Regions from separate parts of the Homo sapiens genome. Here region 2 is linked to region 1. Evidence: fine-mapped expression QTL. A gene starts in region 1. The other region holds a variant in brackets. All regions are shown on one strand. Distances are between the middles of the regions. Region 1 holds the start of XPNPEP1 (X-prolyl aminopeptidase 1). Region 2 overlaps XPNPEP1 (X-prolyl aminopeptidase 1).

The links.
Region 2: its variant is fine-mapped to the expression of XPNPEP1 in whole blood (INTERVAL, PIP 0.95).

Annotation. Positions count from the first base shown.
Region 1 is chr10:109,913,891-109,930,353 of GRCh38, forward strand. XPNPEP1 (X-prolyl aminopeptidase 1) reads right to left here and starts at 9,621. Exons shown (of 21, transcript NM_020383.4): 1 at 9,512-9,621; 2 at 1,121-1,209. The coding sequence starts at 9,543. RefSeq lists an enhancer at 1 and a silencer at 9,297-9,836.
Region 2 is chr10:109,871,117-109,884,201 of GRCh38, forward strand. XPNPEP1 (X-prolyl aminopeptidase 1) reads right to left here. Exons shown (of 21, transcript NM_020383.4): 9 at 12,951-13,032; 10 at 11,316-11,526; 11 at 9,726-9,815; 12 at 9,072-9,122; 13 at 6,884-6,942; 14 at 6,674-6,751; 15 at 4,412-4,483; 16 at 2,251-2,311; 17 at 676-745. Among named protein-coding and RNA genes, the nearest start is that of XPNPEP1, 46 kb to the right of the region's middle. The variant C/T (reference allele first, on the strand shown) is at 8,856.

The sequences.
Region 1 (16,463 bases):
TTTCCTTTCTTTACTTTCTCTTTTTCCTCCTTCCTCTGCTACCTCCTAATATGGTCCAAAATGTGTTGGATACATCTATATTTTTTAAAGAAAAAGGATCTAAAATTGCATGCAATTATAGCACTGATCTTCCAAACAGAGATTAGACGGGCATGGTTTCTTATGTACTTCAAGAGATCAATTTTTCAGTCAGCTAAAAAAAAAAAAAACACATGGTTCTCCTTAGTAGTCGTTAGAGCAGTACTGGCTTACTGGGATAGAAATACAGTAATACACCACTTTTCAGAATTCAGGTTTCTGGCAACCCATCAGACAATTAACCAGTTCTGGGGAGAAGGGACAGCCAAGAAATATTTCCCAAAAAGACTTTCCTAAATGCACACTCAATTTATAAAGGACAATAATATATTACAAGCTTTTCTCATTTTGCAATCTTATGATCAAAATTGAAAGCTAATTTCTAAGATAATGAAGGACTATATTAGAGAAATAGAGAACATTTTCCATAATAACCTATCTCCTTCTCCACCACCACCACTCTGACAAAAATGGAAAACGAAAAAAACAAACAACAAAAAAAAAGTTGTAATTCTCTAACTTACTACCTTAAAAAAAAATGGTAATGGCCAGGCGCAGTGGCTCATGCCTGTAATCCCAGCACTTTGGGAGGCCAAGGCGGGCAGATCACCTGAGGTCGGGAGTTCAAGACCAGCCTGGCCAACATGGAGAAACCCCATCTCTACTAAAAATACAAAATTAGCTGGGCGTGGTGTCGGGCGCCTGTAATCCCAGCTACTCCGGAGGCTGAGGCAGGAGAATCGCTTGAACCCGGGAGACGGAGGTTGCAGTGAGCCGAGATCACGCCATTGCACTCCAGGCTGGGTGACCAAGGGCGAGACTCCGTCTCAAAAAAAAAAAAAAAAAATGGTAAATATATAGAAACAGTAACCAACCACTTAGGAAGCCAAAAAATAAAATGGTTTTTAACTTCCAGATACTAACCCCCAGTCATGATCTGTTACTAATTCCTTACCCTCTTCTTCTCACCCAACCTGGGGTTGGGGTGGAGATCTAAAATCCTTTACAGATGTTCCATCTAATTTCCAGACAAAATTATTACCTGTTTCCACACCTGTGTCTCCTGAGTGTGTCACCTCGTTAGGTTCAATTATTCTTAAATTTCTCAGTTGAAAATCCTGGTGATTCACCCTTAAGGAGAGAAAGAACAGGAAGTTGCAGACTTTGACCACAATAAACGTGGCAAGGCTCAGTTAGAGGAGGCATCGCTTAACTTAGCAGTTCTCTAACATGAGTCAGAAGAACTTTCACCCCCATTATCAGTGGCAGAATAAATAAAAGTTTGATGTAAAACTTGCAGGTGTAAAACATCCCCATGGCAGGTTAACCTTCTCAGTTGCAGCTTCTAGTTCATAAATTCTCACACCTCCTATTTAACTAGACTAAGAAGACTTATTTTCAATGTTTTTTCCTTACACAAGTTCTATTTGGTTCTTTTTCACATCTGCCCGTTCTTTCTTTATGGTGTCCTATTCTTGCACTCTGGTTTCTATGCCTTCTCTTTGTGCCTTCATTACTGTAGGCCCTTATTTTATAATTTCTCCCATACTTTCAAATAGATCTTGGGAGACTAACCCTCATGTTTGCTAGGTCTGCTGCCTCTCCCTCTTGGTGGTTCATTCCTTCTGCGTTTTGTGATCTTTTATTAAGAGCTTATCTTCAATAGAGGCTATTTATCTATGAGAATGTGATGGGTCCTGGTTTGTACAAGCAGTTCTGTTATTGTTTGCTTCTAAGACTTTCACATTAATTTATTAGCTAGAAGATTTACACACAAACTTCTTGTTCCCATATGGGGATAGTCTAATGCCCTGGACACCAGGCATGAAGGTCTATATCTGCATCTGGTAACTTTCCCAGGCTCAGGTTACTAGCATACCACTCAGGCGTTAGGTTCCCTCTACATTTTTGGCACTTGAGGATTTCTCTTTCTTTCAAGTTCATTCAGTCAACAAATATTTATTGAAAAATCTTCCATAATCCAGGCCCTATTCTGGACACAACAGTGAACAAAACAGACAAGATCTCTGACTTTAACAAATTAAGATGGGGCAAGGCAGGGGGATGGGCAGAAGACAGGGAAGAGAAGGCAACAGACACAAAACAAGTACACAATACGTCAAGTAATAAGAACGTGTTTTGTGAAAAAAAGTAAAGCACAGCAAGGGGAAGAAAGCATCAAGGAGGTAAGGGGAAGGATTATTTCATATGGGGTAGCCAGGGACAGCCTCTATTATAACAGACAACATTTTAACACAGACCTAAAAAGAGTGAGGAAGCAAGCCATGTGAACGGCTAGGGGAACAATGTTCCAGGACAACAGCAAGTGCAAAGGCCATGAGGCAGGAGTATGTCTAGTTTACCTGAGGAAAAGCAAGAAGGTCAGCGCAGTGTGATTGTATCAGGGGATGGGGAGGTAAGTGGTTCAGAGACAACATCATTGAGGCACCAGGGGGCCTACTGTGGGGCCATAGAAAAGGTTTTGAATTTTACTCAGCTATGAACTCAATTAAGTTATAATTTAACCGCATTTTTACATGTTGGTAAAGACAGAGAGGGACACATTAGCTCAGTCTACCACACGGTAAGAACCAGATAACCAGGCAGCTTTACCAATGACTCTAGGCCTGCTTTCATATGGCTGTGACTTTAGTTTTACTGGACAGAATGGGATGTTCTTAACGAGAGTAAACATATTATTCTTTCATAAAAAAGTAAGACACCCCAATATGTCTTCTAAAATATAAATACAAATATCCTCAACAAAATACCAGCAAACGGAATCTAGAACAATATAAAAAGGATCATCATCGCCAAGTGGGTCTTATCCCAGGAATACAAGGTTGGCTCAATATATGAAAAATCAATTATTATAACAGGCCATATCAATAGAATAAAGAACAAAATCTACATGGTCTTCTCAACAAACGCAGAAAAAGCACGACAAAATCCAATGCCCCTTCAAGTTAAAAGTACTCAGCAAACTAGAAGAAAAATTCCTCAACCTGACAAAAGTTATTACAAAACCTACAGCTAACATCATTCTTAATGCTGAAAGACTGAATGCTTTCCCCTATAATCTAGGGAATGTCTACTCTTGGCAGAGTAGACAGGGATGTCTACTCTTGGCATTTCTATTCAACATTGTACCAGAAGTTCTATCTAGGGTAAGTAGGCAAGAAAATGAAACAAAAGGCATCCAGTTTAGAAAAGAAGAAGTAAAACTATCTCTATTTGCAATTGACATAATCTTGAATACAGAAAATCCTAAAGAATCCACAAACAAAATTAGAACTAATAACTGAGTTCATCAAGAATGCAGGATACAAAAATCAATATTTAAAAAATCAATTTGACTTCTATATCCTTGTAATGAGCAATTCAAAAATAAAATTAAGAAAAGTCCATTTACAATATCAAAAACAAAAAATAGTTAGAAATAAATTTAACAAAAGAAGTGCAAAATGTACACCACAAAAACTAAAAAAGACTGCTGAAAGTAACTGAAGAAGACCTAAATAAACAAAAGCTATTCCATGGTCATGGATTGGAAGGTTTACTATTGGTAAGATGGCAGTAATTCCCAAATTGATCTATGGACTCAATGCATTCCCTGCCAAAATTCTAGCTAGCTTGGAGGTTGAAACTGACAAGCAGATTCTAAAATTCATATGGAAATGCAAGGGACCCAGAATAGCCAAAACAATCTTGAAAAAGAACAAAATCTTGAAAAGAACTCTTCCATCCCAATTTCAAACCTAAATACAAGACAGTGTGGTGCTAGCATAAGAATGGACTTACAAATGAGTAAAACAGAATTAACAGTCCAGAAATAAACCCTCACAACTGTCAACTGATTTTTGAGGATGCCAAAACCATTCAATGGGGAAGGAATAGTCTCTTCCACAAATGGTGCTGGGACAAGTGAATATCCACATGCAAAAGAATAAAGTTTCCAACATGGCAAAACTCCGTTTCTACAAAAAATACAAAAATTAGTCAGGCATGGTGGTGTGCACCTGTAGTCTCAGCTACTCTGGAGGCTGAGGTGGGGTGGATCACTTGAGCCCTGGAGGTCAAGGCTGCAGTGAGCCATGATAGCACCACTGCACTCCAGCTTGGGTTACAGAGCAAGACCCTGCCTCAAAAAAAAAAACAAAAAAACAAAAAAGCCCAGGCACAATGACTCACATCTGTAATCCCAGCACTTTGGGAGGCCAAGGCAGGCAGACTGCCTGAGTCCCAGGGTTCGAGACTAGCTTGGGCAACATGGCAAAACCCATCTCTACAAAATTTACAAAAATGAGCCAGGTTTGGTGGTGCACACCTGTGGTCCCAGCTACTTAGGAGGCTGAGGCAGGAGGATCGCTTAAGCCAGAGAGGTTGAGGCAGCAGTGAGCTGTGATCGCCCCACTGCAGTCTAGCCTTGGTGACACAGAGAGACCCTGTCTCAAAAAAAGAAAAATGAAGTTTAACCCACTTCATATCATATTCAAAAATTAACACAAATGGGCCGGGCACGGTGGCTCACGCCTGTAATCCCAGCACTTTGGGAGGCCGAGGTGGGCAGATCACGAGGTCAGGAGATCCAGACCATCCTGGCTAACACGGTGAAACCCTGTCTCTACTAAAAATACAAAAAATTAGCCAGGCATGGTGGCGGGCGCATGTAGTCCCAGCTACTCGGAAGGCTGAGGCAGGAGAATGGTGTGAACCCAGGAGGGGGAGCTTGCAGTGAGCTGAGATCGGGCCACTGCACTCCAGCCTGGGCGACAGAGCAAGAGAAAAGGAAAGAAAGAAAGGAAGACAGGAAGGAAGGAGAGGAAGGAGAGGAAGGAAAGGAAAGAAAGGAAAGAAAGGAAAGGAGGAAGGAAGGAAGGAAGGAAGGAGGGAAGGAAGGAAGGAAGGAAGGAAGGAAGGAAGGAAGGAAGGAAGGAAGGAAGGAAGGAGAGAGAGAAAAAAGAAAAAGAACGAAAAGGAAGGAAAGGAAGGAAAGAAAAGAAAGAAAGAAAATAAAAAAAAATTAACCCAAATGGATCACAGGTATGAACGTAGGCGCTAAACTGTAAAACTCTTATAGCGCAACCATAAGTCTGCCTGACCTTGGATTAGGCAATGACTTCTTTAGACACAAATCAAAAAGCACAGCAACAAAAGAAAAAAGAGATACACTGGACTTCATCAGAATTTAAAATGTTTGTGTTTCAAAGGATACCATCAAGAAAATGGATGACAACCCACAGAATGGGAGAAAACATCTGTAAATCTGTTGAGTCTAGTATCCAGAATATATAAAGAACTATTATAACTCAACAATAAAAAGACATATAACCCAATTTTAAATGGGCTAAGGATCTGAATAGACATTTCTCCAGCAAAAGTACACAAATGACCAAGAAGTACATGAAAAGATGCTCATCATTAGTCATTAGGGAAACACAAATCGAAACCACAATGTGATACCACTTCACACCCACTAGGAAGGTTATAATAAAAAAGATTGACAGTAACAAGTGCGGGTGAGGGTATAGAAAAAATTAGAACCCTCAAACATTCCTGATGAGAATGTAAAATGGTGTAATGGCTTTGGAAAACCATTCCTAGGTACACAATCAAGAAAATTGAAAATATATATCCTTATAAAAAGTTGTACACAAATATTCACAGCTGCATTATTTGTAACAGCCAAACTGTAGGAACAACTCAAATGCCCAACTGATAAATGGATAAATAAAAGTGTCTATCCATATAATGGAATGTTCTTTGCCAATAAAGGGAAATCACGCCAGGCGCGGTAGCTCACGCCTGTAATCCCAGCACTTTGGGAGGCTGAGACGGGCAGATCATGAGGTCAAGAGATAGAGACCATCCTGGCCAACATGGTGAAACCCCATCTCTACTGAAAATACAAAAATTAGCTGGGTGTGGTGGTGCACACCTGTAGTCCCAGCTACTCAGGAGGCTGAGGCAGGAGAATCACTTGAACCCGGGAGGTGGAGGCTGCAGTGAGCCAAGATCGTGCCACTGCACTCCAGCCTGGCAACAGAGCAAGACTCCGTCTCATTTAAAAAAAAAAAAAGAAAGAAAAGAAAGAAATCACACCTATGACATAGGTGAACCTTGAAAACATGCTAAGGGAAAAAGCCTAATACAAAAGACCACATAGTATATGATTCTATTCACATAAAATGTCCAGAATAGGCAAATCGGTAAAGACAGGAAGTAGACATGCAGTGTTGGTGGTTGCCAAGGGCTGAGGTGAGGAGTGACTGATTACAGGTAACAGGATTTCTTTCGGGGATGAAGAAAATGTTCTAAAATGATTGTGATGATAGTTGTACAACTCTGTGACTATACTAATAACTTGAATTGTACATTTTAACAGATGAATTGTATATAAGTGAATTATATCTCAATAAAGCCATTATAAATTTTATAACATCTCTTTCTTGTGGACAGGGATACAAGTCAGATTCTCACCGAATTTCCCATTACTTCATACGTAAGTTTCTAAGATGGTAAGTAACTGATCCCAATGACTGGTTCAGACACATGACTACAGAGGTGGAAGGTTATCATTTTTTTAGAGACAGGGTCTTGCTGTGTCACTCAGGCTGGAGTGCAGTGGCACAATCTTAGCTTATGGCAGCCTCAAACTCCTAAGCTCAAGCAATTCTCCTGCCTCAATCTCCCAAGGACCTAGGACTACAGGTATGTGCCATCACACCAACCTGATTTTTTTTTTTTAATAATTTTCTGAAGAGACAGGATCTCACCACATTGCCCAGTCTGGTCTCAAACTCCTGGCCTCAAGTGATCCTCCCACCTCAGCCTCCCAAAGTGCTGGGACTATAGGTGTGAGCCACCGTGCCTAGCCAAGGTTACCTTAAGGTAATCCTATTCATTCATTTTACAGAATAAAAAAACAAAGATAACTTACCATAGGCCATATAACTCAGTAGCCGCAAAGCCAAGACCAGAAACTAGGTCTGACAGGTGAGCTCAAACTCTCTGTGTGAGCATCAACACCTCCACCTTTCTGTCAGGATCACAGGAGCTACGAAGCAGCTCAATACTACAGCTGCTCTGTTCTTGTCGTATCTTGGTCTCCGCAGAGTCCAAGATCTATCCACCTTTCACTTGTTTGGACAGATAAAATTCTTAAGTTCTCTGTCAAAGCACAATTATCATTAAATATTAAGAACTAGAAGAATATACCTCAGGGACTATCCAACTCAATTCCCTCCTCTAGACCAGGAAACCAAGAAACAAAGATCAAATGACTGGCTCAAGGCCTCACAGCTAACTGCTGACAGAGCTAGAACCAGCGTTCCAGCCTCCCAACATCCAGCTCAGTGCTCCTACCCTTCCCAGAACTTCTTCGACCTACACCTTCTCAACTTCATGATGAGCCACAAAGTGGGTAAGGGGCAAGAAGCATGCAGAGCACTTTCAATCTTTGTATAAGATGGTTATGGTAGCACTAGAAAAGGCCTTCTCCCTCTTTTTCCAAGAAATTCTGGCAGGGTTCTGAATACCTCACCCCCCTGCAACCCCCAGTTCATGGGAATCACACATGTGTAGCGTTCAGCATGGGGCAAAACAAGGAACAAGATGCTCAATCACACCTAGTGGATGAGACAAGGGTAAACTGGAACAAGTTCTAAGGTTGGGAAGTAAGCAATGTTGTCTTTGTCTACCCAGAATCCATCCCTCCTTTTGATGGGAACCTTGGTTTTCCTTTTGAGAATGTACCCTCTCCATTTCAGCCCAAGGGGTTCAAAGCAGTCTTATCCAAACACCTAACAGGCTCTGGGACCCAAAGCAGGTCAATCCCTCCCTCTGGCCATAATGATTGGTTCACAGATGAACATGAGAATTAAGGCAGCCCAGTGAGCATCAGATCAGGGACTTCTGCTCCATTAGGAAGGAGGGCTCAACTTCTCTGCTGGGGCTGTCAGCCTAGAACTGTCATAACCTGCCATAAGGAGAAAGTCTCCCTGAGAATGAAGCGGATACTGAATAAATCAGAGCCAAGAGATGATAAAGAGAAGTCTGAAGCCAATGTTGGTGGTGCTCCCGGATTCAGCCACACTAGAAGCCAGCTCAACCCCATTTTAGGTAAATCAATTTGAGTTCAGTTTCCATTACCGAAACTGAAAGAAGTGCTCACTTTTACAAGGAATGGCACTCAAATTCTACCAGTAGGGGAGGCGCCTGTGGAAAATGGCTTCCCCTCTCTCAGCCTTTCACTGGACTTTCCTTTGAGGTAAAAAAGACTCTACCAGCTGGTGTAGAAAAGACTCTTCTGCTCCTAAAAGGCTGTGAGTCTATAAATCTAGCACAGATCACCTTGGCCCCCTAAAGACCACCTGAGGCCTACAGCCTAACTCATCATTATCCACTTGCCTGACTCCATTTCCAGCACTTCACTTACAGGAAGCTCCTTCCAGATGGAAGTTCTCCACCCCTCCCACATACTTCCACAGGGTGGGTCTGGTTTTCTGCTCACCCTTAACAAGCTGTGGCAACGGCAAATCCAGGTCAAGGTAGGTTTGGGACCCCCCTACTCACAAACACAAGCAGGAGCCATGGTCTGTGTTCAGCAAGAAAGCCTGGCCATGCTGCAAAGTGAGTGCATTCATGTCTCAAGTGGTTAGCAGGTGGGTGACCCCTTGGGGATGGCCAGGGAGTCTGGCCTGTGGCCTCCATGAACTCTGAACACCTCTCTCCGTCTCCCACTTTGTCAGAGGCTCTGATAAGTACATCCTGGTTATGGCAGGGGAATAAACTAAAACATGTTTAACTTGAGGCCGGGAAATTATCTGTCTCACCCTCCTATGCCCAAGGAGAGCCCAGGGCAGGCTACTGGGGGGATTTTCCTGGAGATTATACCAAAATATTCCCTTACACAGCCTCTGAAACCATTTGGGTAGGGAGGGGCCCGCGACCGTCTATCCTTGTGGCGGTGACAGATCAGTAGAGTGAATTGCAGGAGTCAGTATTGTCGAGATTGTAACTTGAGGTTTAGATTCCTGGGTAACAGAAGCGAGGGCAAAGGCTCGCCCACCTCCCCGGACACGAAGAGGGGCCAACTTCCTCCAAGAACGGGGCCTTCCCGCGGGCCAGGAACTGTGACGGCCGCCGCCCCCTCAGGCCGAGTGCAGCAGTTCCGCGGGCATACGCGTCCAGGAACCAGACTCGGGCCGCCCCGTGCCCACCGACCCTCCGGAAACGAACCGGATCTCGCCCGGCCTCATGGACCCCTTCCCCCGGCTCCTGTTCCGGGGCTCCGGCGAGCGCGGCCCTCGCCAGACTGCGGCGGGCCGGGCTCCTCACCCGCGCGTCCCTGCCCGCCGAGGTGCAACACGCGCGGCCGCGCAGCGAGGGCTGCACGCTGCCCGGACGCCGGCTGCCGGCGGAGTGCCCTCACCTTACTCGCGGTGGCTTTCTGGAGGCTGCCATTCGGCGGTGACGTGCCCCAGCCCACGTCAGGGGAGCGCAGACCAGCTGATCACCCGCGGAAGGGCCGGCGCGAAGGAGGCGCGAGAGCCGGCGGGCGGGCGGGCGGGCTAGCGCCGGGTCGGCCACGCCCTCGCCCGTGGCGGGCGCTGGCGCCGCGGCCCCGCCCACACGCAGGCCCCGCCCACACTCCCGGACCTGGGGTTCGCGGCCGCAGCGCCTGCGGCCCAGAGCGGGGCCTGCCCTTCCACACCAGTCCGCATTGCCTCTCCCTGCAGCGAGCGGGGAAAGGACGCAGTGCTGCTGAGTGTCTTCATTTTTGTTCGTTTTTGTCGTCATTCCTCAAAGAGGAAAAAGGGCTTTGCCGAATAAAGGGGCTACTGTCCCAGGGATTTTCCGGCTTAATTTAGGAGGGCTGAGAAGAGAGGGACGTGGCCGGCTCCGGAAGAACCTCGACAGGGTCTTCGAGGCTTTGGAACAGGGTCTCAAGCTTTAGAAATGTCCCCAAAAGTATGTTCCCAGAGAGCTTCAAAATCCAGCTCTCCGCTCCGCTTGGATAGTAAATAGCCCCTTCAAACTTAACGTCCAAACGGAACTCCTGGAACTCCCAATGCACCGAAGCAAAGCAAAAACGTTCTCCACCAGTCTTCTTTGCCATCTCAATCAATGGCTACTCTATTCTTAAGAGGCAAAATTTAGGAATCCTCCCTGCCTCTTCTCTTTCACACCCCACATCTAATCTGCCAGCAAAATCTTGTTGGCCCTGCCTCCAAAATAGACCCCTAATCTGGCCGTGTCACACCACCTCCACCTCCTACCCTCTGATGTGCATCAGAGGGTTGTACCACCCCACCCGTGTGGTTACAGCAGCCCCCCAAATATCCCCTCACCATCCCGCACCTGCACAGTCCAGCCTGAACAAAGCCGCCAGACCAGTCCTTTGAAGCGTGACACCAGGTCACTTCTTTGCTCAGCACTTTCCATTAATTTCTCGTTTCACGCAGCATAAAAGCTCCATTTGATCTACCCCCAGCCACATTTCCTCCTGTTCTCACCTTCCTCACTCTTCTTCAGCTGAAATGGCCTCCTGGCTCTCCTTGAAAAAGCAGGGTACACTCATGTCCCAGGGCTTTTGGACTTGCTCATCCCCCAAATATTGAGGCTCCCTTCCTCATTTTCCTTCAAGTCTTCGTTCAAGTATCACCTACCCTGACCATCCTATTTAAATTTGTAAATCATTCCAATATTCCTAATCCGCCTTACCCTACTTCATTTTTTCCATAGCACTTACCACCTTTTAACAGGATTCTTTTAATGTACTTATGTGTACTGTATTCTTCCCCCTCTCCTGCCACCACCCACGCACACAACAAAACCATCAGTGCAGATTGTTTCTGTTTTGTTTAATGATGAACAATATCTAACATGTCATAAGTTCTCATTATATATTTTCTGCAGAAATGAATGTTTCAGAATGTGCACTCCTCAAAAGCAGGGATGGTGGCTCTCTTGTTCATTGTTATTTCCCTGGTGCTTAGAACAACACCTGGCACTAAATGAAAGTGACCACATTTTTTTAAAGGTGAATGGCACCTCCTCCTGCTTTGACCTTGGTGTAAGGCCTAATATACCTGTATCAGCTAGGTTCTGCTACCTGCAAGAACTCAAAGTCGTTATTGAATAAGCATTTAGGCAAGCCGAATTAGACTGTGTAGTTAAAGCATGAAAAAACTAAAGATGTGCTTCCTGGGAAAGCAGCACACATCTGTTGCATTTCCCCAAATTTATGAAGCCAAAAACAGAGAGATTGTAAATAAAATACTGGTTCCAGCCCACATCTGAAAGCTGGTGGGAAAAATCAAGTTATAAGAGAAAACGAGATAAGAGAGAGAGAGATAAGTGAAACTTAAGGGGGACAGGTATTTAATAATCACATTGCCTAAAAGAAAAGGAGTTGGCTCAGAATTTACGGCATCCAGCTTCAGGGGAGAGAGAGAAATACCTTGCATTCCCTGAGCTGGATTTGAGTTCCTGTTTGCAAGATAAAAAAAGGAACCCTTTCCCCTCTTGAAGTTTTTTTGTTTGTTTGTTTTTTGAGATGGAGTTTTGCTCTTTTTGCCCAGGCTGGAGTACAATGGCACAATCTCAGCTCACTGCAACCTCTGCCTCCCGGCTTCAAGCAATTCTCCTGCCTCAGCCTCCTAAGTAGGTGGGATTACAGGCATGCGCCACCACACCCGGCTAATTTTTTGTATTTAGTAGAGACGGAGTTTCACCATGTTGGTCAGGCTGGTCTTGAACTCCTTGGCCTCGACCTTCCAAAGTGCTGGGATTACAGGCATGACCCACTGTGCCCGGCCTCGCTCTTGAAGTTCTAACAAGAGAACCTCTGGAGAAGTTATAGCACTGAATTACCATGAGAGAATGAGAACACCAGGAGTTATATAGGTTCTTCTCCTGGCTCTACAGTCCTTGCATCCTCAAAGAAGTGGAACAGTCACACTGCCTGACATTCATTGAAGGCTATGTGTCTAACCCACAACAAACCAATGGGTGAAGGACTCTTATCCTCATTTTACTGGTTGAGGAGACTGAAATTTGCAGAGGTTAAGCCCCTTGCCCAAAGTCCCTGAGCTAGTAAGTGGTGGTACTGTAACATACATTCAGACAGCAGGATGGATTCCTAGCCCTGACACTTAATCGCGAAGTTATCTGGAAGGGACCCTAGAGGTGGCCTCATCCAGTCTCCTAGCCCACACAGCAGAAAGAGGGAGACAGCTGGTTTTGGCATTCACACCCAGACCGGGTGGGTCTTAGATGTAGCCAGAAATATTAAATGCGTAGAAATATGTTGGATTGAATTGTGACCTCAAAAATTCATATGTTGAAGCTCTAACCCCTAGTACTTTCGAATGTGATCTTATTTGGCAATAGGATCAGTGCAGATGTAATTAATTAAAATGCAGTCATATTAGAGTAGGAAGGATCCCTAATCCAATATGAAGTGTCTTTATTTAAAACAGAAAAAGAAATCACACTGTGCACACAGGAAGAACACCATGTGAACACGAAAGCAGAGATCAGGACGATGCATCTACAAGCCAACAAACACCAGGACTGCCAACAAACTGCCGAAAGCTAGGACAGAGCCATGGAACAGATTCTCCCTCACAGCCCATGGAGTGAACTAACCCTGTGGGTATCTTGATCTTGGACTTCCAGCCCTCCAGAACAGTGAGACAACAAATTTGTTTTCAAATCACGCAGTTTGTGTTGCTTTGTTACGAAAGCCCTAGGAAACCAATGTAAAACAAGTTCCAAATGTCCGTGTATAGATTGTGGACCTGTGTTTTGGGCCACCCGACATTCATTCATTCTCCTTCTGATAACCATCCTACCAATTCCCTCTGGGGCCCACCTCTCCCTACTTCCCTCCTTTCCCCATTCTCTATGTATGTTATCCAAGTGCAACACTTGGATTCCAAGAGTGTATCATGTAACCCAGGCATAGGCTACAATGATAGGATCAGATATTGCTATGGGAATAGAGTCTTGCTTCCTTCTGCCAGCCAAGATCCTGGATGCATATACTCGAACTGCTGCCTCTATGTGCAACATGTGAATGGCACCAAGGCAGCAGAAGACAGAGCAAATAGAAAGGGGAGAAGCAGACCTCAAAACGTTATTTGAGTGCTGCATCCTGCAACACCTTAAACCAGATGTCCCACTGGACTTTACTTAAGTAACCATCTGTACCATTGAATTTTATGCATGAGTAGATATCATTTTATTAATGTAGACAATCACGAACTAACAAAGGGAAAAAGTAAATTATAAAACAATATAATATCCCTTTTTTTGTTTTTGTTTTTTGTTTTTTGTTTTTTGAGACAGAGTCTCGCTCTGTCACTCAGGCTGGAGTGCAGTGGCACAGTCTCGGCTCACTGCAAGCTCCGCCTCCTGGGTTCACACCAATCTCCTGCCTCAGCCTCCCGAGTAGCTGGGACTACAGGCTCCCGCCACCACACCTGGCTAATTTTTTGTATTTGTAGTAGAGATGGGGTTTCACCGTGTTAGCCAGGATGGTCTCGATCTCCTGACCTTGTGATCTGCCCACCTCGGCCTCCCAAAATGCTGGGATTACAGGCGTGAGCCACTGCGCCTGGCCAATATCCCATTTTTATAACATATCCATAACTATGTATACTGATACGGATATATAGATACAGAGTTTTTTGGGAGGGAGAGACAGGGTCTTGTTCTGTCACCCAGGCTGGAGTGCAGTGGTGTGATCACAGCTCACTGCAGCTTCGACCTCCCAGGCTCAAGCAATCCTCCCACCTTAACCTTCTGAATAGCTGGGACCATAGGCACACACCACCACACCCAGCTAATTTTTTTTCCTTTGGTAGAAATAGGGTCTCCCTATGTTGCCCAGCCTTGGTCTCAAACTCCTGGGCTCAAGCAATCCTCCCGCCTCAGCCTCCCAAAGTGTTAGGATTATAGGCACGAGCCATTACACCCAGAGTAAGTACTTTTTTAGAATAAAAGGAAAGTGATCCACAAAATCTTAGTGCATATCTTGAGGTGGCAGAACTTGGGCTGATTTTAATTTTGCCATTTTTTTGAGATTGTTTTTTATTAACAAGAAACTCAAAGTACTAATAATTTCTCTGGCCCTTACTCCTTGGAAGGCAGAGCCAAGGAACTCGTTTTGTACTCCAAATCCAAGCACTACAAGTAATAGTAGCCCTCTAGTATTCAATTTGATAATTGGTTGATGACCTGACCACTTATTGAAACAGGAGCAACATCTCTTGATAAACTCCCAGATGAGAGGACTAAAAAAAATAGAAATCCCTGTAGGAGATCAAACAAAATTATAGCTTTAGAGGAGAGTTTTAACCTTTTCAAACATTTCAGTTTGTTCTAATAAAATTGATAGTTACAAGAACAGTAATGAGTGAAGCTCTCATAAATCATTATAACATGGCCTTATTTTTTGTAAAGTTAACTAAAAGATAGGCTTGAGGTTGCACCCTAGAAAGGAATGGGAGAAGACAAGCCAACTTTCAGGATTGTAGAGTCTGCCAAAACAATGTACTGTAAATTAAGGGTGGGAGAATGCATTTGGCTCAATTCAGAATCTACTCACCCTTTGTATTCAATGAAAACTGAACTCAGACCTTTTGATATCTGAGTTCCATTTACTCTTGGCAAAGTTCAATTCTCTGGCTCAAATTTTTTAAAAAGCCCTTTAAGAGGCCCAGAGGGTTTCTTGAACATCAAATGGTTCTTGCACAAACAACATATTGATGAGCTAAGTGCAAATGAATTAGAAACATACAGAGTAAGTGTTCTTTGAAACACACAGACCCTCCCACCCTATGAGGGAAAAGACTCAGGGAAGCTCTATGGCAGTCTCTTCCTTTAAGGAGTATTCCTTTTTACCGTAATTTATCCCCTCCTCAAGAAGCCTTTGGGGGACCTTTGCAAAATATGGGAAAGGGAAGAGAGTATATCCAGCTGTTCATGATGTTGACTTCTCACAATCCCTTCCAAGCTATGTCTTCAAAACTGGGCTTTGGAGAGGGGCAGCACAGCCTAGAGGTCAAGGTCAAGAGACAAATTCTGACTCTGTTTCTGCCGCTAAATAAATGTGTGACTATAGAACTGGCAGAGCACCCTTTCCTCTGGTTTCTTAAGGTGTTGGGCTTGACAAATGCCTTCCAGTCTGACTATGTAGTAATCAAATCCCATATGTTTTCTTTGACCCTGAGTATATATTTTTTTCTTTTCTTTTCTTTTCTTTTCTTTTTTTTTTTTTTTGACAGAGTCAGAGACAGAGTCTCACTATGTCGCCCAGGCTGGAGTGCAGTGGCATGATCTCAGCTCACCACAACCTCCACCTCCCAGGTTCAAGGGATCCTCCTGCCTCAGCCTCCCGAGTAGTTGGGACTACAGGAGTGTGCCACCACGCCAAGCTAATTTTTGTATTTTTTAGTAGAGACGGGATTTCGCCATGTTGGCCAGGCTGGTTTTAAACTCCTAATTTCAGGTGATCCACCCACCTCAGCCTTCCAAAGTGCTGGGATTACACTATGCTCAGCACTACATTCTCTTTTTAATAACAGCTTTATTGGAATACAATTCAGTGCCATACACAGAGCCAATTGAAAGTGTGCAATTCAATGGTTTTTACTATATTCATAGAATTGTGCAAGCATCACCACAATTTTAGAACATTTCATCACTCCAAAAAGAAACTCATACCCTAGGGCAGTCACTCCCCATTTCCCCCCGTCCTCTCCACCCTAGGCAACTGCTAATGTACTTTCTGTCTCTATAGATTTGCCTCTCTGGACATTTCATAAAAATGGTATCATTTAATATCTGGTCTTTTGTGACTGACCTCTTTCATTTAGCATAGCATTTTCAAGATGTATCCATGTTGTAGGATGTATCAGTACTTGATTCCTTTTTATTACCAAATATGCCAATTAAAATTCCATCGTACAGAATATTACTTTGTTTATCCATTCATCAGTTGATGGACATTTGGGTTGCTTCCACTTTTGGATATTGTGAAGAATGTTTCTATGACAATTCATGAGCAAGCTTTTGTGTGGACATGTGTTTTCATTTATCTTGAGTATATACCTAGGAGAGAAAATACGGAGTCATATGGTCACTTTTTGTTTAACCCCTTGTGGGAGACTTTTGGACTGTTTTCCAAAGTGGCTACACCATTCCCAGCAGCACTGTTTGGGGGTTGCAACTTCACATCCTCATCCATACTTGTTATCTTTTTTTCAATTCCAGCCATCCTAGTGGATATGAAGTGTTATTTCAAGTAGTATTGTGGTTTCAATTTCCGTTTCCCTGATGCTAACGATGTTGAGCCTCTTTTCATGTGTTTATTT
Region 2 (13,085 bases), 44 kb before region 1:
ATGCTGGTGAGCGGGGATAGACACCTACAGCACACAGAGGCCGTATCAGACATGGACGTTCCCTTGCCAGCTCTGCGACCCTAAGGTTTCAGAATTACAAAGATGAGACTCTAACCAGACTGCAAGCAGACAGGCAGGCATGACAGATGAGGAAACTGAGGCCTAGGGAGATGAGTACATGTCTAATCTACCCAAAAGCAAGGCAGCCCAGGTCTTGTCAATGCCCAGTCCAATGCTCCACCCACCAGGCCTCAAGCAAAGTAGTACATAGCTGAAGTCAGGGTCCCAGTAAAATAAATCCTAAGAATCCCGAAAGGAAGCACTGGCCCAGTACTAAAGGGCAGACAGGAGGCTGCACCAACTTCCACTCAGGCCCTGTGACCTTCATATCTGGTTTGTCCTCTCCTGGGAGCCATCCACATGTGTCATCCAATACCATAAGTGGTCAGGAGAATGGTGCACAGGGGGTACTGGGCCCAATCCTAACCCGGCTCCCTGAGGCCTCTGGGCTCAGTCAGTGGGTTATGGAGACTCACCCCATGAGCACCTGGCTGGGCCTGAAGTGGGATGGGGACCTCACAGTGAAGGAACGACATGTTCTTTCACTCAAACATAGACATATTTGATTCTCAAACAAGAAAAAGAGCCTGCCATGTGACAGAATGCACCACCTACCTTTGGTTCCAGTCGGGAAAACGGCTGCACTCACAGCTATGTGGCCCTTGAGGACATATGTGAAGCATTCCTGCAAAGAAAACCCAGGGGCATGTTGCAGAATGGGGACAGATGTCTAATCCTGTAGTTTTCTGGTAGTTCAGAAAATCCTGCCTGCTAAAGTTTTTAGCAATATCATAGAGAAAATGTAAGTAAAAAGAAAAAAATCTGGTGGAAAAAAAGCCTGGCCACGGGACCAATTTCCCAGAAAATCTTGAAATTCAATTTAGTAGAAGAGCACTGTCAGAGAGATGACCCCACATGACTTTATAATGAACACTCTGACATACTCCATCATGTGAGCCTTAGAAAGAATGGAAAAGTAATAAAAAGTACTGATGACCCTAGCTAACATTACTGAGCTATCCTCTGTGCCACGCACTATTCTAAGCACTGTATGTTTGATCCCACACTTCACGATGGAGGCACTACTGTTATCCTCGCTTCACAGAGAGATTCAGTAGCATGCCCAGATCACACAGTGCCTAAGTGGCAGCATCTGGCCTTGGAGCCAGGCACTCTTGCTTCAACAGCTGTGCTCCCTACCACCATCCTATCTTCAGGGGTTATCCCCACTGTCCGGACAAGAGAAGTGCTACTCAGAAGTGTAGCAGCTTGCCAGTAAGGTGCAGAGTCAGGACTAAAACTCCATGCTCCTCAGCCTGGTTGAGCTCTTTGAAAAGCACAAAAAGAGTCACACCAAAAGAATCCTAGACGCAAGGTCCAAATTCTTCTAAGGCACTGGTGAATACAAATGGAAAAGGCAAGGGACCAAGACAATGAAACCTGCCCCACTACATTGCATAAAACCCTTTTCCTTGGATAATCTTCCTGAAGGAGCTCTCTTGGACAAACAGATTCACTTAGGTGCTCAATCAGCATTTGCTGAGCAGTGACTATGATCCAGGAACTTGCTGGGCTCATGGGAATTCACAGCCACCCGGGAAGGTGGGTCCTTTTATCCTCATTTTTATGGATGGTGACTGCTTTGTTCAACGTCACAGAGCTAGTAAATGGCACAGAAGCTCTGAAGCCAGGTCTCCAGACCCCTAGTACACATCTCTCTGCCTCACAGCTCTCTTTCCCCTTTCCATGCCAATCATACCAGAAACTTAATAGAGTCTGTCATTTCAGAAAGTTTCCAGAGAGTTAAGCCTGTAAATAAGAATCTCAAAAAAAGAAGGGGGTGGCCTTCAAAATCAAATCTAGGCACTGCTTATAAAGCATGTATTTCACTCTCTCATCCCCAGCCTCAAAGGCATTTCCTGACTCAAGAGAAGGCCAAAGCTATTATATTTAAACTTACACCTGAGCTGCCCTAACCTTAGCAGAATGCTTTAAAAATTTCTCCAAATGTCTTATTCCAATAATTAGTTAAATGAACCTCGTAAAGCAGATAAGCCTGACTCCACAGCAAGGAGCAATTTTACTACCCCACATGTAATTTTTACTTCTTTATACAATCCCTTTTCATAAAAGCAATGCTCTTCTTAAGAAAGCAGAGAGGACCTCTTGAGTTTTTTACCTCCACCTTACCTTCTCGTAGGCTGTAGGGGTCCCAAAATGCATTGTCCGCGTCACATCTGTGGTGCCATCCCTTTCCAAAAAAAGGACAAATTGGTTTCCCGTCAAAATAAGCTTTAAGTCAAATATGACACAGGCAAGCATGTGGACAAGTGAGAAGCCCCATACAATGCTGGTGGGCATGTAAAATAGCACAGCCATCTTTGCAAATAGTTCGCAGTTCCTTAAAAGGTTAAATATAGTCACCATATGACCCAGTAATTCCACTCCTAGTTATATATCCAAGAGAACTGAAAACATACATCCACACAAAAACTTGTACATGAAGGTTCACAGCCACATTATTCATAATAGCCAGAAGATGGAAACAGCTGAAATGTCCATCAACTGATGAATGGATAAACAAAATGGGGGATTATCCACACAGTGCAATACCATTCAGTAATTAAAAAGAAATGGAATACTGATACATGCTGCAACATGGATGAACCTGGAAGACATTGTGCTAAATGACAGAAGCCAGACACAGAAAGCCATACATAATACAATTCTATTTCTATGAAGGGTCCAAAATAGGCAAATCCATAGATACAGAAAGGAGAGTAGTGGTTCTCCAGGGTAGTGGAAAAGGGGGTAGTGACCGCTATTGGGTATGAGGTTTCTTTTTGGGGTAATGAAAATGTTCTAAAATTGATTGTGCTGATGGCTGCAAAACTCTGTGAATATATAAAAAAAATTAATTGTATATTTTAAGTGGGTGAATTACATGGTACATAAATTTTACCCCAATGAAGTTATTTTAAAAAATGAAACAAAGTGTGAATGCAGGGATGGCTAAATAAACTGGGAGTGACGTCAGCCCCTGACACACGCATTCTTGGTCTACAGCATAAGGGCTGTTTCACGAGAGACACTATCACTGGGGTTATGAACAAGACAGAAGAAGGCAAAGAAAACAGGAGCCCATCTCTAGCAAAAGAGGGCCAAAACCCAACTTCTCCTGTTAGAACAGCAGGGGGTTTCCTGGACAGAGACCCTAAAAATATCCAAGTACATATCTTAACACACACTAGACTATATCCCTGACATAGAAAGGATAACTTCTAGAATCCTGCTAAAAATTTAGAAGTGAAGAAAAGTTTACACCATTATCAAGCAATCCTTAGCTCTAGGCTGATATTATTAACACCCCTGTGTCCCAAGGCCAGGCATGGTTGCCACGTAATTGGCTGAGCTCATTCAATAATTAGGTCCTCCCTTAGCCATAGTCCCAACTTCAGTGGGGAATGGAGCAGCACTAAAAGGTCTTGCTCGGCTGGGCACAGTGGCTCACGCCTGTAATCCCAGCACTTTGGGAGGCCGAGACCGGCGGATCACGAGGTCAGGAGATCGAGACCATCCTGGCTAACATGGTGAAACCCCGTCTCCACTAAAAATACAAAAAATTAGCCGGGCGTGGTGGCGGGCACCTGTAGTCCCAGCTACTTGGGAGGCTGAGGCAGGAGAATGGCTGCAACCCAGGAGGCAGAGCTTGCAGTGAGCCGAGATCACGCCACTGCACTCCTGCCTGGGCTACAGAGTGAGACTCTGTCTCAAAAAAAAGGCCTTGCTCGTGCCCTCTTAATGCAGACAGGGTCTATTCTTACTCCTTCTTTTGGGTTCCGTATCAAGACCCAACCAAATCTTGGGTTCTTCTCTGAGAAACTTTGTTCCAGAGATGATAGCCGTGAAAGCAGCAAAACATGGAGAAAGAAATTCAGAAATGTGGGGGCAGCCCTCATTTCTCATTTATTCATTCAAAATTAATCCCTTACTTCATAAGGCCCTGGGGCAGCTGAGAGTACAGGGAACCGGCAGGCGGTTCATGGGCTGGGGTGGAAAACTTTCAACGGTTCCAAAAGCTTGCTTTACTTCACAGTTGTTTACTTATATTTTTAAAACTTCCAGCCAAGGACTGTAACATTTCTATCAAACAGTCTTTTGTGAGAACAGAGTCACAACTGGGCTATTTCAAATAGGGGTGAAAAAAATGACAAGACACAGGAACGATTCCATTAGTGGCCAGCACAGAGGGCGATGACCAGCTGAGTGCTCTCAGCTGGAGCTCAGCTGTCCACCTTCTCCACTGCCTCGAATCCATAGTCAAGTTCCACAGCAGTCCTGGTTTACTTACTTGTATTGAGCACCCGAGTCAATAAGGTACACCTCATCCAGGGACAAGGTCCTATTCGTCTCAGGGACTGGCCTAACAAAGTTAATTAAAAATTAATTATTCCACAAATGTAAACACTTAGTGAATCTGGGAGGAGGACACACAAGAGCTCTTTGTACTATTCTTGCAACTTACATAAGCCTGAAATTATATCAAAATAGAAAGTTATGCAATAATGAATTATTTCAACTAATATTAAACTTCTACTTTTCAAAGATCCAATCAACCTATCTCCCCAGCTGAGATAAAGAGCTCAACAAAGGAAAAGTAACACATTTCTTTATGTCTACCTCTGTTTGTGTCTGAAACAAAATAGGTGTTCAAGAGATAATTCTAAAAGCTAAAAAAATGAGAACGATTAGATGCAACAGGACCTAGCTAGAGTCCTGGGAACTGGGACAGGAGCAGCCTGGAGTCACTGCAGCCTTGCTTGTCTCTGGGAGCCCCAGGCCCCTGCCTCAGCCTCCAGGCCCCTCCTTCAGCCCTGACCCCAGCAGGTACCTCCCCACTCGCTCCCCAGACTGCTAGACAGGCAGGAGTGGATGTCTCAACTTGGGAGAAAAACTAAAGGAATTTTGCTGGGAAAAGGAATGGATCACGATATTCTTCTGCTTCAAACAAACATGAGGTATTTTCAAAAAGTGATCTCTTTCCCCACACCGTTTTCAAAACAATATCACTGCACTGGGAAACACCCAAAGGGATGAGAGCACTCCAAGTCTCTGCCCTGCAGCTGAAGTGAGGTTGTCCTCCATTTCCAGGTACCACCCCCTCTTCAGCAATAAGGGCACCAGTCCACACACAAGCTGAACAACTAAAAAAGACAACCAGTACCTCCAGAACCCCGCCTCTAAACAGGCTTCCAACCACCCACAATGAAGAAATGCCAACGCAGAGGCAAATTTCTTCCACTGGCATGAAACTGTTTAATGTTTTAATTATACGGAAAATTCTAGGATAGTATCCAGCCAGGAAATTCATCCTGAGTTAAACAAAAACTGAAGTCCCTCTGATATTTTTATGCTGGAACAGAAGCATTAAGTGAGGAAACTGTACTGTCCCATCTGTGACTGTCTCCCACACACAGCTTCAAAATCTGCCCCAAGACTAAAAGCTCTAAAAACAATTATTAAAAGGGGGAAAAAAGTGTGTGCCCAAGCACAGTGTTCTTTTGTTGGCTGTGCATGTAACAGATGGGGATGCACAGAACTCAAAATACCCAGTGCAAAGCAAAGCGGTTTGAACCAGGCAGAGCTGAGGCTGAAGCCCAATGGCCACACCTAATGACATTTCCCCCCATCTCCACAGGAAGATCTGTCAGTCCTAGACATATCAGTGCCCCTCTGTCTCACAAGGAAGGGAGGCTCGGCCCTGTGGGTCCATGGGTTCTTGTAGACCACGTGGTAAAAAAACCACATACTGGGATGCCAGGCTTCAGGCTCAGGGGGACAGGAAGAGAGGGTACTGATTATCTCTCCACCCAAAACAGGTTGCCTCACAACCTACTACTAAGTTTTTTTTTGGTATGGAACTGATGGAGCTCACAAGATGTATGGACTAGTACAAAACAGCTGCTGTTACCAAGAAAGAAAACTACTCAAAAATTCCAGTCATGGGCCAAGCACAGTGGCTCACACCTGTAATTCCAGCACTTTAGGAGGCTGAGGCAGGAGGATTGCTTGAGTCCAGAAATTCGAGACAAGCCTGGGCAACACATCAAGATCCTCATCTCTACAAAAAAATCTAAAAATTAGCCAGGAGTGGTAGCACATGCCTATAGTCCCAGCTACTCAGGAGGCTGAGGCAGGAGGATTGCTTGAGTCTAGGAGTTCAAAGTTGCAGTGAGTTGTGATGGCACCACTGCGCTCCAGCCTGGGCAGCAGAGCAAGACCTTGTCTCCAAAAAAAAAAAAACTTAGTCATCAAGATGCAAGGGCTATGCATACAGTTCCTGCAGCTTCAAAAAGGAAAGAGGGACACCCATCTGACTACCCTGCAGAGAATGCCAGTGCCATACTGAGCCTAAGAAGAGGCTCCCAAAAGGCAGAGGCTTGGGGATTGGGAGAAAATAAAATCTTAGAAGTCTTATTTCCCTTCATTTTACAGTCTCAACAGACAGATGAAGGTGGGCACAGAGGCCTCTGGTAAAATAATGTCTCTCCCCTGCTCAGGCTCCTGTGCAGAAGCAGCAAGGCCAGGCAGCATGCTCCTCCGCATGCCTTACGCGTAGTGAATGATGGCGCCGTTGGGTCCCGTACTGGAAATTGTTGGGAAGCTCAGGTCCACAAAGTCTGCCTGTTGCCTGTAACAGAAAGACAGAAAGCAGAGTGGCTTAAAGGTTTTTACTGTGCTAAGATTCAGGGCCCTTCCAGCCTCATTCAACTAGCAAGAAAATCAGCACGAGGCTCCTGGGTCCCCCCAAATGGATCCTTACCTGCGAAACTCCTCAGCTTTGTCAGCAGCTGAGATCTCTGTCACACCACCTTTGGGAACCTATGAGAAAATTGCTTATAAATCATCTGGTGAGATAAATTCATGTGTGCCTCTTACAAATTAGAGGAGGTACATTAAAAGCTCACTTTTTCCTCAATTGCTTCATCCCAACTGACCAATCTACAGGACACATCTTTAGCAAGGGAGAACTCCCAAAGGCTCTCACCAAAGCTATCTAAAATCCAATAGTTTCTATTCATTTAATTTTTCACTCAACTATTGTGCTTCAGTATTTTATCCTAAAACCTCCCAAAACAACATATCTAAGTTTAAAAATTCAAAAGCATCCCCTCCTAAGAAATCATCGTAAGAAAATCATTCTAGAGAAATAAAAAAGATAAATGCGGAGAGATTATTGCAGGATTACTGATAACAGCAAAAAATTAAAAACAACCCAAACATTTAAAAATAGGAGGACTGGGTTAGTAAATCAGAAGAGCCACTAGATGCAGTTTTCATTTGGATCCTTTTTTAAGGCCTCAATGTACATGGAAAATGTTCACACTATGATTCTAAGAGAATAAAATAAAACACAAAATCATATCTAAGCCAGGTGTGATGGCTCACACCTATAATCCTAGCACTTTGGGAGGCCAAGATAGGTGGATCGCTTGAGCCCAGGAGTTTCAGATCAGCCTGGGCAACATGGCAAAACCTTATCTCTACAAAAAAATCAGAAAAAATCAGGTGGGCTGTAGTCCCAACTAATCGGGAGGCTGAGGTGGGAGGATCACCTGAGCTTGGGGAGGCTGAGGCTGCAGTGAGCTGTGATCACACCACTACTCTCCAGCCTGTGCAACAGATGAGACCCCATCTCAAAATAAGAAAAAAAAAAAGAAAAAAAATTTATCTGCACACTAAGAGACATGTAAAAATAATTTATATTTTTAAAAATAATTTACGGCCAGGCACGGTGGCTCACGCCTGTAATCCCAGCACTTTGGGAGGCCGAGGCGGGCGGATCACAAGGTCAGGAGATCGAGACCATCCTGGCTAACACAGTGAAACCCCGTCTCTACTAAAAATACAAAAAATTAGCCAAGCATGGTGGCGGGCGCCTGTAGTCCCAGCTAGTCGGGAGGCTGAGGCAGGAGAATGGCGTGAACCCAGGAGACGGAGCTTGCAGTGAGCCGAGATCGCTCCACTGCACTCCAGCCTGGGCGATGGAGCAAGGCTCTGTCTCAAAAATAAAAAAAAATAATAAAAATGTAATAATAATAATTTACATAAAGTCCAGGCATGGTGGCTCATGCCTGTAATCCCAGCACTTTGGGAGGCCGAGGTGGGTGGATCACAAGGTCAGGAGTTCAAGACCAGCCTGGCCAAGATGGTGAAACCCCATCTCTACTACAACTACGAAAATTAGCCAGGCGCAGTGGCAGGCGCCTATAATCCCAGCTACTTGGGAGGCTAAGGCAGGAGAATCTCTTGAACCTGGGCAGCAGAGGTTGCAGTGAGCCGAGATCACACCACTGCACTCCAGCCTGGGTGACAGAGTGAGACTCCGTCTCAAAAAATAAAATAAAATAAAATAATAATAATAATTTACATAGATGAACAATCACCAGAAGGAAACATGAGGGAAAAAGTTACACTAGTGGGAATAAAGACAATATTTTCTTTTCCCAATTAAAGAGTTGTTTATACAATACTTAAAGGGAACATGATATTGTTTAATAACACCACAGAGAAACCACCCTCTTGTCAACTAGAGCAAGAAATTAATGGCCAAGAGTCAATTTAATATAAAAAGGCTCAAGGCTTAAACTGAAGTTCAAAATGTACACAAAGATCTTTTTCTCCTAATACAATCAGCTTGCCTATAATAATATTATAAGACTCATTTTTCCTTATAATGAAATTCCACTTAGTTATGATTCCCTAACCCAAAAAGCATCCACTCTATTATGGAA[C/T]TTTTCTTCATTCTTGTTACTATTTTCATAATTAAGGAATTTTGAAATCTACACACACCAAATTTCCAGAGAGAATTATTAAAATAGAGCCCAAAAATTTGATGAAGATCTCAGATCTCATGGTCAGCAGAGCATGGGAGATGCTAGAGTTAGAATCACATATAGGTAGGTCTGAATAATGTATATCCACATATTAAACAAAGACTAAGAACCAACCTCTTTCTCCAGCCAGTTAAAGAGTTCACAGAGAGCAACAGCATCTTTAATCTGTGCAAACAATGGAGACATTTTTTAAGTTATCACTGAAAATCACGTGACCAGATTCAGAGCCTAGCCCTAATGCAATACTGAGAAGGCTGTACCTGCAGGGCCACACATCATCAGCAACCAGAGCTTTACATGTGGACATTTCTGGGAAGCTGGTGTGTGCAGCAACTCCCATTATCAGGGAAAGGCTCCTCTGCTATTCAGTAGTTCAGGTACAATCAGGAAGGGCCCCACCTCAGAGCACAGGGAGCTCCTCCAAAAGGTTAACTTAAAGGTTAAGAACCCTACAGGGGCCAGGAAAAAACAGGCCACTATCAAAAGCCACCTCTGGGCCCAAAATCTTTCTTCATCAGCATCACGTCATCACCATCATCTACACTGTGAACATCAATATCTCCTTTTGTATTGTGTATTATACTTTGTAAAGATCTAATCCATCAAGTATTTTATTTCATTCCCTCAATAACTCCTCCTGGAAGGCCAGGAGGCTGAGGCTCAGAGAGATTCTAACCTTGTGCCAGGCTCAATGCCACAGAGGAGGTGAAGGAGCCGGGCCTTCTGACCACCTCACATCCCATCTTCTGCACCAGCTCCTCTACTCACGTGAGCCCGCCTCATGCCTTCTGACTCAGCTGAATTCTTCACAGCTTTGGCGATGCAGATGGGGGTGTAAGGCATACAGCAGCGGTGGTCCTAGAGGCAAAGGGCAGTAGGGTGGGAAATCAAACCGGCTCCACCCACCCAAGACCAAGGCAACAACCTTTTTGCTCAGCAAAACTTACTTTAGACAAATCATTTGAAGAGCTCCCACTGGCGACCCATATAGCTATCCCCTGGGGCCCCAACGACCTGTCCCTTTTGATTGATGACCCTGAGCTTAAGCTCAACCAAAAAGAGTAAGTACATCAAACAAGGTGTCTCTCTTCCATCCCTCACTCCCTTAGCTCTTTGAGACTGCTGGCTGCCTGCCGTCAGCAAGACATTGCTTTCCAAGCCACTGTGGTTGTGGTTAGAGTTCACTAACACTGAAAGCTTGACCGAAATCACCCTTCTCTTGCTGTACAAAGGGGGCTTTTTCTCCCTGTCTAGCCATGCACATGACCTGATGAGTGAGGTCTCCTGCTCCCTCCCTTCCCGCCCAGTGGTCCTATCTCAGCTACTGATAATAATCTGATCTTGAAGGGCTGGAGAAGACCCTTTCCAATTTGAGAACAAGTTAGAATCCAGCAGAGGGGCCTCAGCACACCTGGCACTTGCACAAAGCTTCTAAAATTGCTTTTGTGATCTTATCTCCTTTTCTCTTTCTCTCCAGAGAGAGAGGAGAGAGAGAGAGGAGGAGTCACACTGTGTGTGATGATGGCAGGGGTACAATGGCAAGCCAGATCTAGAGAGCCAGGCCTGGATTCTTCCCAGGATGCCCCACTGCTCAGTGGAGAAGAAAGGACATCACTGGGCTTGCCAAAGGCCACTTGGCAGCCAGAGGCCCAGGGGAGGACAGTAGAAAAGCCTACCTCTAAAGAGGCCTGGATTCCAGTCCCATCCCAGACCCTAATGAAAATGAGGCAACAAGTGTCAGCTGCTTAGCACTGCCCAGCAAGGGCTCAGTAAAGGGCAAGGCTATCACTATCACTTGAATTTGACAAATCCCCAAATCCCCAACTCCCCAATCCTCTCTGAGCCTCAAGTGTCCTTAGCTATAAAATGTGGTGCGGCAGAAGGAGGGGGTAGAGAAGCATTTCCCAAGCTTCAAGCATTCTTATACCACCTGCACAGCTTTTACCCTAGCTTCTTAACTGCTGTACCCTTATTCACTTAGTACTTTACTTTAGACCATCTTTAAATCAGCTTTATTAAATTCAACTTTATTTTAAATAATTATATCATGAACTCATGCTAGTTATGTTTTTTCTATTATATGCTAAATGCTGTTAAAACAGATATATTTAAGCAAACCTAAATAATAATGTGTACCACCTAAAATAATCTCTCATGCCACACTCTGGAAAACACAAGACTCAACAAGCAATAAGGGCCCTCAGGCTCTTGCTATGGCTCCAGCTTTAAGGCCTCATCCATGGAGACCACAGTTCTGATCCAACAGGCAGCCTCAGAAATCTGCCTGTGCTCCAAAGACAATACCAGAACTGGGAAGGGGGTGGCAGAGTTTAGATGGGCCAAAGTGGGGTCACCAACCTTGGGGATGGTCTCGCTCACAGCATAGCTGGCCTTGTCACTGACCCACACCTTCTCCCTTGGGGAGAGGTCAGCACACAGGGCCTTGAGCTCGCTCAGGATGGACTTGTAGGGATGCACCTGGATCCTGTATTCGGCTTCCAGACCCAAGTCAAGAAGCAGGTGCTCCTTCACACTGGGGGCGTCTATGCGGTCACCATCAATGAAGAGCCTGCAGATGGAGGAGAGGTGGGTGGCAGAAAAAGGAGGGAACATGAGTGAGAGGTGGCAACACAGACACACATACACATCAGGCTCTGTTTCCTGGCAACCAAAACCAAGCCCCTTTTCTCTCCTCCCCACTCCTTTCCCAAATCCTGCCCTCCAAGGTGCATTCCCTGCCCCCATCCACCCAATCTGCCAAGCCAGAAATCTGGGCAGTGTCCTCCTTCACTGATGACCCTCTTCCCGTCCTTCATTAAGACCTTGGGACCCACAGCCTAAATCTCCATCTAATCTGTCCAGCTCATCTACAGCCTCGCCCAGTCACCACTCAGGTTCAGGTCCCACCATCTCTCACTTGGGTTAGTGCCACAGCCTCTAAGTCTTTCCCCATCTACCGATGTTTCAGTCATAATATTCTTTACAACTTGTACATCTAACATGTGGTTCCCTCTGAAAAATTCGTTCAATAGCTTCCCACTATTCTTGTTCAGAAAAAGAACCCAAGCTCCTGAATGTGGCCCACAAGGCCTCTCTTTTCTGTGGCCCCTGCTCACATTCTGGCCTCACTATGTTCTGACCTCACTGAACCACTTCAGGTCCTCCACATGCACTGTGCTCTCTACTGTCCAGAGTCTCTGAAAATGCTGTTCCCTCTGCTTGGATCATGGTTCCCCGCCCCTCCTCACCCTGCCATTCACCTAACTCACCCACATTTATCCTTACTCTCTGCTTCAAAATATTACTTTCCCCAAGAGTCTGCTCTGATCTCCAAGTCTAGGTCAGGCCCCTCTCGTAACACCTGTATCTGTCCCACAAGCAGACTGGTGCCCACTTATGTGCCCAAATACTTTAGAAAGAGGACATGCTCATCTCCCCAACTCCAGCCAAGGACCCCGTCCTGTTTCAGTCACCCTAGCACCTAACAGAGACCCTTAGCACATCACCAGCACTTAATAAATGTGTTGTCTTAATGCAAAAAGCTATTGAAATAGAACAGTAATGAAAAGAAGGCCACACGAAATGCTTTGAAAAAATAAACTGACAATTCAACAAAGCGTAGTTGGAGGGGTTTTCCCATATTATTTTTGACCTTCAAAATGACTGGGTTTATTTGCATTGTGGACCCAGAATTGTATAATTGAGCATATATACCCCTTAACACTGGCTGCTAGAAAACTTGACATCAAATGGGTGGCCCGAACTATAGACACTTTCATGCGTTTCAAACCATTTTGGGGGCTCAAAGAGAGGCAGGATATAAATAAACACCTACTGCTAAGGAAAACAAGAAGGGAAAATGTTAAAAGGGCAAGAAAAAAGAAGCACATCAGTGAAATATCAGGCAGTGATGGGTGGGCCAGGACCAGAAAGGGCACACTAGGGCTCTGAGGAGCTCTGGAAGGGAGTTCCAGATGCAGGGCAAACACTCACATGATCGTCTCTAGTCCTATGATTGCGTAGGAGAAAAATACTGGATTGTGCTCCACATCTGATCCTCGGAGATTAAATAGCCCTAGAAAAGAAATCAAAATCCCTGTCACCTGTCTGACTTAAGATGTTAAGGGG